Linked DNA regions of Homo sapiens: region 2 is reported to be linked to region 1. Evidence: microRNA targets listed by miRTarBase, many of them from high-throughput screens and not tested one by one. Region 1 holds a microRNA gene; the other region holds the end of a gene's coding sequence.
The links. Region 1 holds the annotated microRNA hsa-miR-3163 (UAUAAAAUGAGGGCAGUAAGAC, at 3,259-3,280, opposite strand). A microRNA usually pairs through its seed, bases 2 to 8, with sites in the 3' UTR of a target mRNA and lowers its output. Matches are read on the target gene's strand: a 7mer-m8 pairs with bases 2 to 8, a 7mer-A1 pairs with bases 2 to 7 and ends in A, and an 8mer does both.

Region 1 (5,072 bases):
AAAATACAAAAATTAGCCGGGCATGGTGGCACACACCTGTAGTCCCAGCTACTCAGGAGGCTGAGGCAGGAGAATCACTTGAACCCAGGAGGCAGGGGTTGCAGTGGGCCGAGATGGCACCACTGCACTCCACCCTGGACAGCAGAGTGGCAAGATTCCATCTCAAGAAAAAAAAAAAAAAAAAAAAAAGGAATAGCTGAGGGAAGGGACTTCAACCGGGGAGGGAACATAGGGGGCTTATATGGTCCTAACCTTAACCTAGGGATGGGAACATAGATGTTCATTTTACTATTTTGTTTTAACATACTCATATGTTTTAAACATGTCTTCTGTTAAGTGTGGGATTTTGCAATAAACAAATGGCAAAATGAAGAAAAAAAAACATGCAATGGCACACAGAGTACTGCAGACTTTTTATTTGTGCTGACATCGGACGATTTCCAAGATACACTGATAAATGAAAAGGGCATGGAGCAGAAAGGGCACAGGAGAAACAAACAATAGATATATGTTTCTGTAGCCGGGCGCAGTGGCTCACGCCTGTAATCCCAGCACTTTGGGAGGCCAAGGCAGGTGGATCACAAGATCAGGAGATAGAGACCATCCTGGCTAACACGGTGAAACCCCATCTCTACTAAAAATACAAAAAACATTAGCCGGGCATAGTGGCAGTTGCCTGTAGTCCCAGCTACTCAGGAGGCTGAGGCAGGAGAATGGCGTGAACCCGGGAGGCGGAGCTTGCAGTGAGACAAGATCACGCCACTGCACTCCAGCCTGGGCGACAGAGCGAGACTCTGTCTCAAAAAAAAAAAAAAAAGAAAAAGAAAAAGAAAAAAGGAAATATGTTTCTATTTCAAAGGGCAGACCACCTCCAAGAGGACAGACAAGATAATTTAACCGGAAGTGGCCTCCTGGGAGGGGACTGGGTTACTGGGGAGAGAGGAAAAAGGAGACTCATACATTTCAATGTTTGTACAAGGTGCAAGTATTACATAGCTAAACTGAATACCTTTTTTTTTAAGTTAAACACTAACTCTTTGGATTACCGCTTGGTAACCTGCTAGAAGACTATTAGGTTCAACAGTAGCATCTCTGAGGAGTTACCTAGGTCATACCTGGGCTTCCTTGGCCCCATCAGTAACTGTTACATGAGACCTGTTTTCAGCATGGAAGGCACTCTACCATCTCAAATGATTTCAATGGGAGGGTAGAACTCCAGCCCATTCAAGCCCAGGGTTCCACAGAGACCCCTTGGTTGGACTCTGTCAATGACTAAACCCTTGGGCTTACGCTGCTGGGCTAGCTGATGTGGGACAAAAATCTCGCAGATGCAGTGGCCGAAATGTCCTTTCGGGGCCATAAATCTGCTAGGAATGGCTGCATTTGCCCTTTAGCCCAGAAGTATCCTTAATCTGGCCCTGGGGGGAAAGCCTCTTTAAACTGTGTGTTCTCTCCAGCTGGAGAAGCTAGCCATCGGGGAAAGAAAACTGATTCAGAACTGCAAAAGCAATAAAGAAAGAAGCCAGATACAGGACCAGACACAGATCTTTTCTTGGAAGGTAAATCATACCATCCCTTATCTTGTGAATTTAGTCTCAATTATGTCCCCTGTTGGCAGCAAATGCCCTGTCTTTTCTGCACACCAAAACCCATTCCAAAGTCCCAGCACCAGGAACTATGAATATCAAGAAGTAGTTGGGAGAAAAACAGAAACAAGTGTTCTTAATTCATATTTTGTGTCTGCTAGGAGAATCCTTCGTCTAAAATACCTCTTCCACCATGCACCTAAAAAATCCAACGGAAAACCTCAACCTCTTAACTCTAACACCTACAAATACTTTGTTTTGATCAGTGTAAATCTGTTTGCTAGGAGGCAGTTTCAGCTTCCACCTATCCCGCCCTGGAAGCAAGGCGAAAGCTCCAAGTACCCTGAAGGTGTCTCTCTCCTGACAGCTCTTCCAGAGGCCTCAGCCCTTCAGCCCAGGCTCACCAAGCAGTAGGCAGCCTACCACAGATGAGATGCAACTGTCTCACCCAGAAACCGTCAGATGAGGAGAAATGGGAGGCACTAAGAGGCAAGAACTGGGGAAAATCAGCTCAAGAATCTTCAGGCCCTACCAGCCCTTTCTCCTCTCTGGGTAACATTTTCTCCGGGTAAGTCTCAACGCTTATTGCTCTGGTCTCAAGCTATCTCAATTTTCTCAGGAAATGCTGAGTTGGGCTTAAAAGCCCACCATCCCGAAAGATGGTGCCCTGTCCCAATTCCCTATTTCTTTTCTATTTGTCTCTCCACTTTTCCCCGACCTCAGGTCTTGGAGTCAGCTCCCTTTAGCTAAATAAATGGGGTGGCTTTTTCCATCCTGCATTTCAAGATGAAGATTGAGCTGCAATTTAGAGCTCTCCAATCCCTCCCTCCACTTGGCCCCATGACAACTTTTCTTCTGTGACACTTTATATTTGCCACCTCCTTCCCATTGCAACCACTTCCCTAACCTCCACTTGCATCATTCCGGAATGTCTGAGTTACATTCCCTGCTGAGCTAGTCCCCACCCAACCTCTGCCTCTCCCCATTCCCAGGCAGCCACCCACTCCGCCCAGAGGTTTTCCAAAAATCCCATTCACCTCTGGGTAGTCCTGGCTCAAGCATCTCAGGGGCTTCTTATTGTCTCAAATCCCAACACGCAGCTGGGGTTCACAGAATGAACTTCCAGCCCTAATGCTCACTACGCCCCACCAGCACACTCCAACATTGCTTCCCAAGTGCTAGGCCCTGAGGATTCCACAGTGATCAATGCAGGCACAACCTCCACCCTTGCCGGCTTCCCACTGCCTTCCTCCACGCCAGCGAGGCTGGGGCATCACCCTCTGTCTCATCACCTGGCCTCACTCCCATTGCCACTGTCCGGGGGCACCCGCCTCCTACGAACTCAAATATCACACATGCGAGGACCAGCTCCTCCACCCACCTGAGAGAGTCCCCTCATCTTGCAGGGCCTCGGATTCACATATTCTACCCTCAAGGGGTTCACTTCTAACTGTTCATCACTGGTCCCATTAACAGAGCCACCATTACGGTGTGTCCAAGTGTCAGGCACATGACTGTGTGATTTCATTTGTTTATGTGTTATTTCATTTGTACAGAATGAACGTGTGTTATTTCATTTGTACAAAAGTTATTGCATTTGATCTCTACCCAACAGCCCCCACTGGTTGGTTTCCTCATCTATAAAATGGGGGTAGTAAGACAAGGAAGGAAGGTCTTACTGCCCTCATTTTATAGATGAGGAAACCAAGGCTTGAAGAAGCTAAGGAACTTGCTGATCAGGGCTAAGCCTGAACTCCATCCTGTCCGCCTGACTCCAGGGTCCATGCTCTCAACTCTGCTATGCCACTCCCCGGTAATTCCCTATGTGTGTTTTGTTTTTGTTTTTGAGATACAGTCTCACTCTGTTGCCCAGGCTGGGGTGCAATGGCACGATCTTGGCTCACTGCAACCTCTACCTCCTGGGTTCAAGTGATTTTCCTACCTCAGCCTCCCACCACACCCAGCTAATTTTTTGTATTTTAGTAGAGATGAGGTTTCACCATGTTGGTCAGGCTGGTCTCGAACTCTTGACCTCAGGTGATCCACCCGCCTCGGCCTCCCAAAGTGCTGGGATTACAGGTGTGAACAACCGCGCCCAGCCCCCTGTGTATGTTTATGCATTTAGCATCTCACCTGGCACAGAAGCAGGATCAATGAGGTCATTACTACTCTTCCACGCTAGCCAGTCACTATGCAAGCATGTATTTTGTCCAGCACGTGCATTCCCTCTCTCCCAACCACGGATAAACAACTCAGGGCAAGGCCACCTTGTCAGATCCTCCTGTGGCCTCACAGCATCCAGTAAGGAGCTGTGCATAGCACAGATGCACAGTAAATGCTGAAGGAAAGAACCATTTCTTGGAGTACTGCCCAGTAATAACTTGTCCTCCTTAAGCCACTCAGTCAACTGAGAAAACGCAGGATTAGAAAATGGGGCATTCATTCTGCTAGATACTGATTGCCACGTAAGAATATCAGAAGTATAAATGGACAGAAAGATGGCTCAGGTCAGCAAAAACACAAATAGCTATTTTGCAACCAGTTGGAATGGGGCAGTCAAAAGCCAGGAGGGCTGAAGAAAACCTTACAGTCTTACTGAAACAGCCTTGGGCAACATGGCAGGGAGAAGAGCCCTGCCTTAGATGGAGGTAGACTCCCAGTTGGCCACAAGCCATGCGACAACAAATGGCTCTTATGATAAAAGCTGCAAACGTCCATGAAGTGATAACTTCAGAAGGAAAGGGGAGGGTCTCAGGTTGGTCTTTTCAGCCCTGTGCACTGTAACACCCTGCCACACCATATTGCAACATCCTGTGGAACGGCAGCATATTCTGAGAACCTCAGGCCAGAATCTGGTTTGCTGCTGTCAGAGCTTGGCTATAACTCTTCCTAGTGAAGCTGAGAGAGACACTGAACCTCTCTGAACCTCGGGTCTGTCATCCATAAGCAGCAAAACCACAACCATAACCAGTTCCAGGGAAAACTGGTTGATAAAATAAAACTAGCCAAGTGCTGTAGCTCATGCCTGTAATCCCAGCACTTCAGGAGGCCGAGGCAGGAGGATCGCTTGAGCTCAGAAGTTTGAGACCAGCCTGGGCAACACAGTCTTTACAAAAAATACAAAAACTAGCCAGGCATGGTGGCACATGCCTGTAGTCCCAGCTACTCAGGAGGCTCAGGTGGGAGGATCATTTGAGCCTTGGAAGTTGAGGCTGCAGTGAGCTGTGATTGCACCACTGCACTCCAGCATGAGTGACAGAGTGAGACCCTGTCTCAAAAAAAAAAAAAAAAAAAATCAGCTGGGTGTGGTGGCACATGCCTGTAGTCTCAGCTACTTGGGAGGCTGAGGTGGGAGCATTGCTTGAGCCCAGGAGGTGGAGGCTACAGTGAGCTTGGATGGTGCCACTGTACTCCAGCCTCGTGACAGAGCAAGACCCTGTCACACACACACACAAAAAAAAGGTGGGGGGGGAGAGAAAAAAAGAA
Region 2 (5,072 bases), not on the chromosome of region 1:
ATGACTTATGACATCTGCCATGAGTACAGGATGAGGATGAAGAAATGTTGAGTTTTGCACAACCTGATCTGGTCCAACCCTTTCTACTGCAGAGAAATCTGTAAACTTTGTCTAGTCAGACAGTTCTCAGAGGGGGAAAGACCAGAGCAGAGCCCCGCTCTCATTTTGCTCCAAATCATATGTTTTATGGTCCACCATGACGAAATCTCTTGAAGTCCCCATTCCATTCTTCCTATTGATGTTGGCTAATCATACACTTGTTCTCTGCAGAATCCTGGAGCCCCACTCTGCACTGGCCAACCCACAGAGTGCCACAGAGACAGCCTCCAGTGAGCAGTATCTGCACTCTAGGAAGAAAAGTGCCAGGATCCGCCGGAACTGGAGGAAGTCAGGCCCCACAAGCTACCTCCACCAGATCAGACACTGATCCAGGGAAAGAGCCAGGAATGGCAGTGTCTTCCCTCTTGCCAAAAGGCCTGGGGAGGTGAAGGAAGAGAGACTTTAGGCAAGCAGCCCAAAGGGGTAAATGAAAGCAAGAGGCTGCTGCCACTGACCTGCTCCATTCAGAACAAGACTGGATGCTTCTGTTGAGCTCTCCATTATGTGGGACCCATTCCTCACCAAAATGAGGAGAGACAGTGACTGTTCCTGCCACAGTCCTTCCCAGTCTAACACTATTCCTGGGCTGCATGATATTCCCCTGGGAGCAAAGTGACAGGCACTTAGATGCAGCATTTCACCACTCATGCTACTAATCATCTACCTGCTACTACTGTAAACCATGGTTCCAGCAGCCTGTTCCACACCCCCACACCATCAGGATAGCACAGGGAAACTGTAGTTTAAGTGGCAAATAAAAACATTTGCATCAAGAGCTGTGTGAGTCTGTCACAGAAGGGGAGGAAATGAAACAGAGTGGGAGGGGCAAGAGTGTCCCCAGGAAGGAAAAATCAGGGCTGGCCTCCTCTCTCCTTTTCACCTCCCTCTCCTTTTTCACCCCCATGCTGAGCCCCTGGACCACAGCCTCCTTTTCCAGAGTCTGTTGGATCGGGAGTAAAGAGGGGAGTCTCTGCAGCAGTCCTGATCCATAGGATCAGGAGAAGGGGGAAGACTGTCATGGTCAGCCCAGCACAGTAGGCTGAGGCCTTGGGCTGGCTTAATCTGTAGTCAAACTAGTGGTGCCAGATCCTCATTTGGTTTCTTCATCCTTATGGGCTGACCATCCCAAGGTGGACTGATGATTCTGAAGTTGCCTGCGTTATATCCTAGGCTTCCCATGGCCTGGAAACCCTTGAAGGCAGGGTTTTTCCCACAGTTCTGGCTCCACCTCAAGAGAGGCATACTCTGTGCTTATTAGCTTTCTTCTCCCTCTCCACCCACCCTATATGCTTGATTATTCAGGGTTTGAAGTGGGGCAGTGATGTACACAGGGCAGGGCTGCCCTCTGGTGGCCAAGAGGAGGAACCACTACTACCTTGAGTCAGGTAGGTCCTCTTTTTTATTTTATTGTTTATTTATTTATTTATTTATTTTTATTTACTGAGAGACAAAGTCTTACTCCAGGCTGGAATGCAGTGGTGCAATCTCGGCTCAGTGCAACCTCCAACTCCCGGGTTCAAGTGATTCTCCTGCCTCAGCCTCCCAAGTAGCTGGGATTACAGGCGTGTGCCACCACACCCAGCTAATTTTTGTATTTTTAGTAGAGACGAGGTTTCGCCATGTTGGCCAGGCTGGTCTCAAACTCCTGACCTCAAGCAATTCACCCACCTCAGCCTCCCAAAGTGCTGGGATTACTGGTGTGAGTCACTGCACCCAGCCTGTAGGTCCACATTTCTTATCCCAAGCCCTTGGCACTAGATTATTTTGGAATTCAGATTTTTTATTTTTGGCTCTTAGGAAGTAGTCAGCAAATACTGTATAATCCCTAGTAGGGAACCATGTCATAAAATATATTGACATTTCTGCAACAAAGAATCACACTAAAAGGAACACATCATAATTACCCATAGCTTCCTATCAGTGTAAGTTCAGGTCAGGTTTGGTTTCAAATGGGTTATGAAAATACTTTTGGTTTTCAGAGCATTGGGACTTTGGAAATGAGGACCTGGATCATCCTTTATTAGGGAGAAATAGCCCCAGGAGCCACGTCTCAGCAATTCCATGGAAACACAGGTTTCTTTGCCCTCAAAATTCCGTTCCTACCTTCTTTGTCTTCCTTCCCCCAAAGAAACTGGACAAAAAAGGTCAGAACTGTATTTGTTATTCATACATTTGCGTTGATTTAAATACATTACGTACAATTTCTACATTGGATTAGAAGAATGACACAGGGGGCAGCAACACTCTCGCAGCCCAGCCTCCATTCCCTGACACTGGAGGCAGGGCCTATGGCTGGCAGAGGGACGGTGTTCCATGAGTGCCACTCAGAAGCCTCCCCCGGCATTCTGGGCCCCTGGCTCTTCCAGAGTCCACATTCAAGGCAACCTGAGCACAGGCTTGAGGGAGAGTGGAGAAAGGCCAGGAAAGGATGCCCACACTCTTGCCTGCCAGGCCCAGGACCAGCTCTCTCCTACACTGGACCCAATTTCCTTCTGATCACAGAGCTGGTCTGGATCAAGACAATGTGGAGATCTGGTGTGGAGGCTGTGGCCAGGTGAGGCAGCCGGGCTCCCTGTTAGACCCCCAGGCTCTCTTGAGCACCAGATGGGCACTTTACCAACAGGTTTGGGTAAAAATGTCTACAGAGAGCTATGCACACCTGGGTCCCCTTCTGGCTCCTACAGTCAAGGGGCAAGTGTTCTCTCGAACATTGTTCCCAAGGCCAGTGTCCGAGTCAGCTGCATGTGATTGTCGGGGCTGGGATTGGGGCAGGCAGGCGAGCTGTACCTTCGTCCACAGGGCATGCACATCCAGCTCTCAGAAATTCTTCCTGTCAGCCAGGTGGAAGCCCGGGACAAGTGGACTCTTGGTGGCTGGACTGGAAGGGGACCGGCGGGGACCAGCCTGGACCAGCTGACCAGAGGGCTGCACATCTCTGCTCTGCAGCCGGGCAAGCAGAGGACATGCAGCCATAGTCCTCACTCCCTTTCTTTGGTTGTTTTTCAAACCTTCAAGATAGTTACTTTCTGAGGTTGACTGACCAATCGCAAGGTGCCAGAATTGTGAAATGTCCAGTAGCACAGGGCATGAACACAGCTGCCCCTCCAGACACAGATGGCACCCTTTTTACTCCCTCCTGAGGCCGTACTTTGCTTTGGTGTAGAAATGGCTCAAACACCTGGCAAGTGGGGGTGGGGAGTGAGGCAGCAGGGGAAAAGACACATGGAAGCAAGAAGATACGCACTGAGCTGCGCAGGACCTGGGACAGTTTGAAGGCCTCTCTCCTTTGGGCCTCACCTTTCTCAGGGAAGCCATAGAGAAATCGGCCTAGGACAAGTCAGAGAGAAAAGGGAAACTGCCACTTATGAGGCAGAATCCACGTCCTGTTACTTCCACCAAGCAGCAGCGGTAGCACAGAAAAAAGTCCAAGAACCTAATAGCCTGTCCTCTTGGAAGCCAAGACTCATCCCAGAGCCCTTGCAGAGACCCACTCCCGAAGACAAACTGAACTCTTACATCAAAAGAGTTGGGGGGAAAAAATTTAAAACGAGAGGAACAAATGAGAAGATTGGGACCAAGGACTCAGGAAGCAAGGTGGGATATGTTCACCCATAGACCACTTAGCTCCCGGCATACACTCCGGCTGCGTGGATCACTTTTACATGCTGGGAGTCAACTTCCTATTAAAATATAAATGCTAAGACTAGCTCTTCCTGCCTCTGCTTGAGAAACAGACAAGCTGTAGGCCAGCAGAGAGCAGAGAGGTTCTCTATGATTGTGTGCGGAAGTGCTGGCGGGGGTAAAGCAAAAACCTCCCTTCCAGGAGAACTGTTTCGAGGCTTGCAGCCAGCCCACAGCACTGATGGGAGATGGAGGAGGCTTGGCAAAAACCCAAAAGAAAGGTGTGGCTTCTGTCTGTCCCAGTGCTGTGGTACTGCGAGTCATCCAGTTGCCCTCTGACACCACCTTGGCTCATGGGAGGAAGCAACTGCAAGGCAGCTGAATGTCAGGTCTATGCAAATTTAGGCCTGGATTAAAGGTTTCTGACATGAGATGACCCGGGGTTCTGCTACAAGCATTTAAAGTTGTTTTTGTTTTGTTTGTTTTTCTGATGCAGAATATAATAGGGAATTGCAATAGAGCAGGGTTTCAGGGAAGGAAGGGACTGTCCCAGCCTGCTACCAGCAGATGCTGGAAGGGAGATGTTCCTTCCCAGGCATCTGGACTACGTGCATGGAGCTCCAGCCTCCCCCACATCAGAAGGGCGAGGAGCACTCACTGTTCCTGATTGTGCTTCTCCCTGTGGGTGGAAAGCTCTGAGCAGGGTGGCAAGCAGAGAGAGAGGGCTCTTAAAGGTGCTGCTCTCCACCGGCTTCTCTGGCTTTTCCTGCACCCCACTCCCCAGGCTTCCTCCCACCAGTCTCTGACAATATTTCCTCTGCCTGCCTCTGGAGCTACCACCATGAAAAGAAGGGCTTCCGGCTCTGAAAGCTCTGTGTGTAGGACTCGCTAGAAGACCGCTGGTGGGAACGGGCCGTCTCGACAATCACAGGTGGCATCTGGACGAGGTGCAGGGGACTCTTGTTGTCTTTCAAGGCCTGGGTCAGATTTAAGATCTGCAGTGGGAAAAAGGAGATGGGTGAGGGAGAGGCCTCAGCATTCCAGATCTGCCTCTGAAAGGAGATCAGTAGAGAGGACGCCTACAAATCAATTTTTTAAAATACCAATGGAAAATCATGCAAATAGGCCATTTACAAAAGTAAAAATTAGCAAAACAGAAAATGGAAACCTCTCTAATCATTTAAAAAATACAAATGAAAACAAATCCTTTATTTTTTTGCCCTCCAGTTAGTAAAGATACAAAAGAACGACGCAGAGTTGGGGAGAATTCAAAAAAATAAATACTTGCCAGGCACGCTGGCTCACGCCTGTAATCCCAGCACTTTGGGAGGCTGAGGCAGGTAGATCACTTG

Region 2: the mRNA of AVPI1 is a reported target of hsa-miR-3163. The part of its 3' UTR that is shown has no 7-base or 8-base seed match.

Annotation. Positions count from the first base shown.
Region 1 is chr11:66,931,218-66,936,289 of GRCh38, forward strand. It overlaps MIR3163 (microRNA 3163), which reads right to left and starts at 3,289; the gene lies at 3,217-3,289. All of the region lies in intron 3 of PC (pyruvate carboxylase), which reads right to left.
Region 2 is chr10:97,673,224-97,678,295 of GRCh38, reverse strand. It overlaps AVPI1 (arginine vasopressin induced 1), which reads left to right. Exons shown (of 3, transcript NM_021732.3): 3 at 271-872. The coding sequence ends at 427. PI4K2A (phosphatidylinositol 4-kinase type 2 alpha) reads right to left here. Exons shown (of 9, transcript NM_018425.4): 9 at 1,862-4,715. The coding sequence ends at 4,554. Among named protein-coding and RNA genes, the nearest start is that of AVPI1, 11 kb to the left of the region's middle. RefSeq lists enhancers at 1,132-1,201, 2,019-2,518.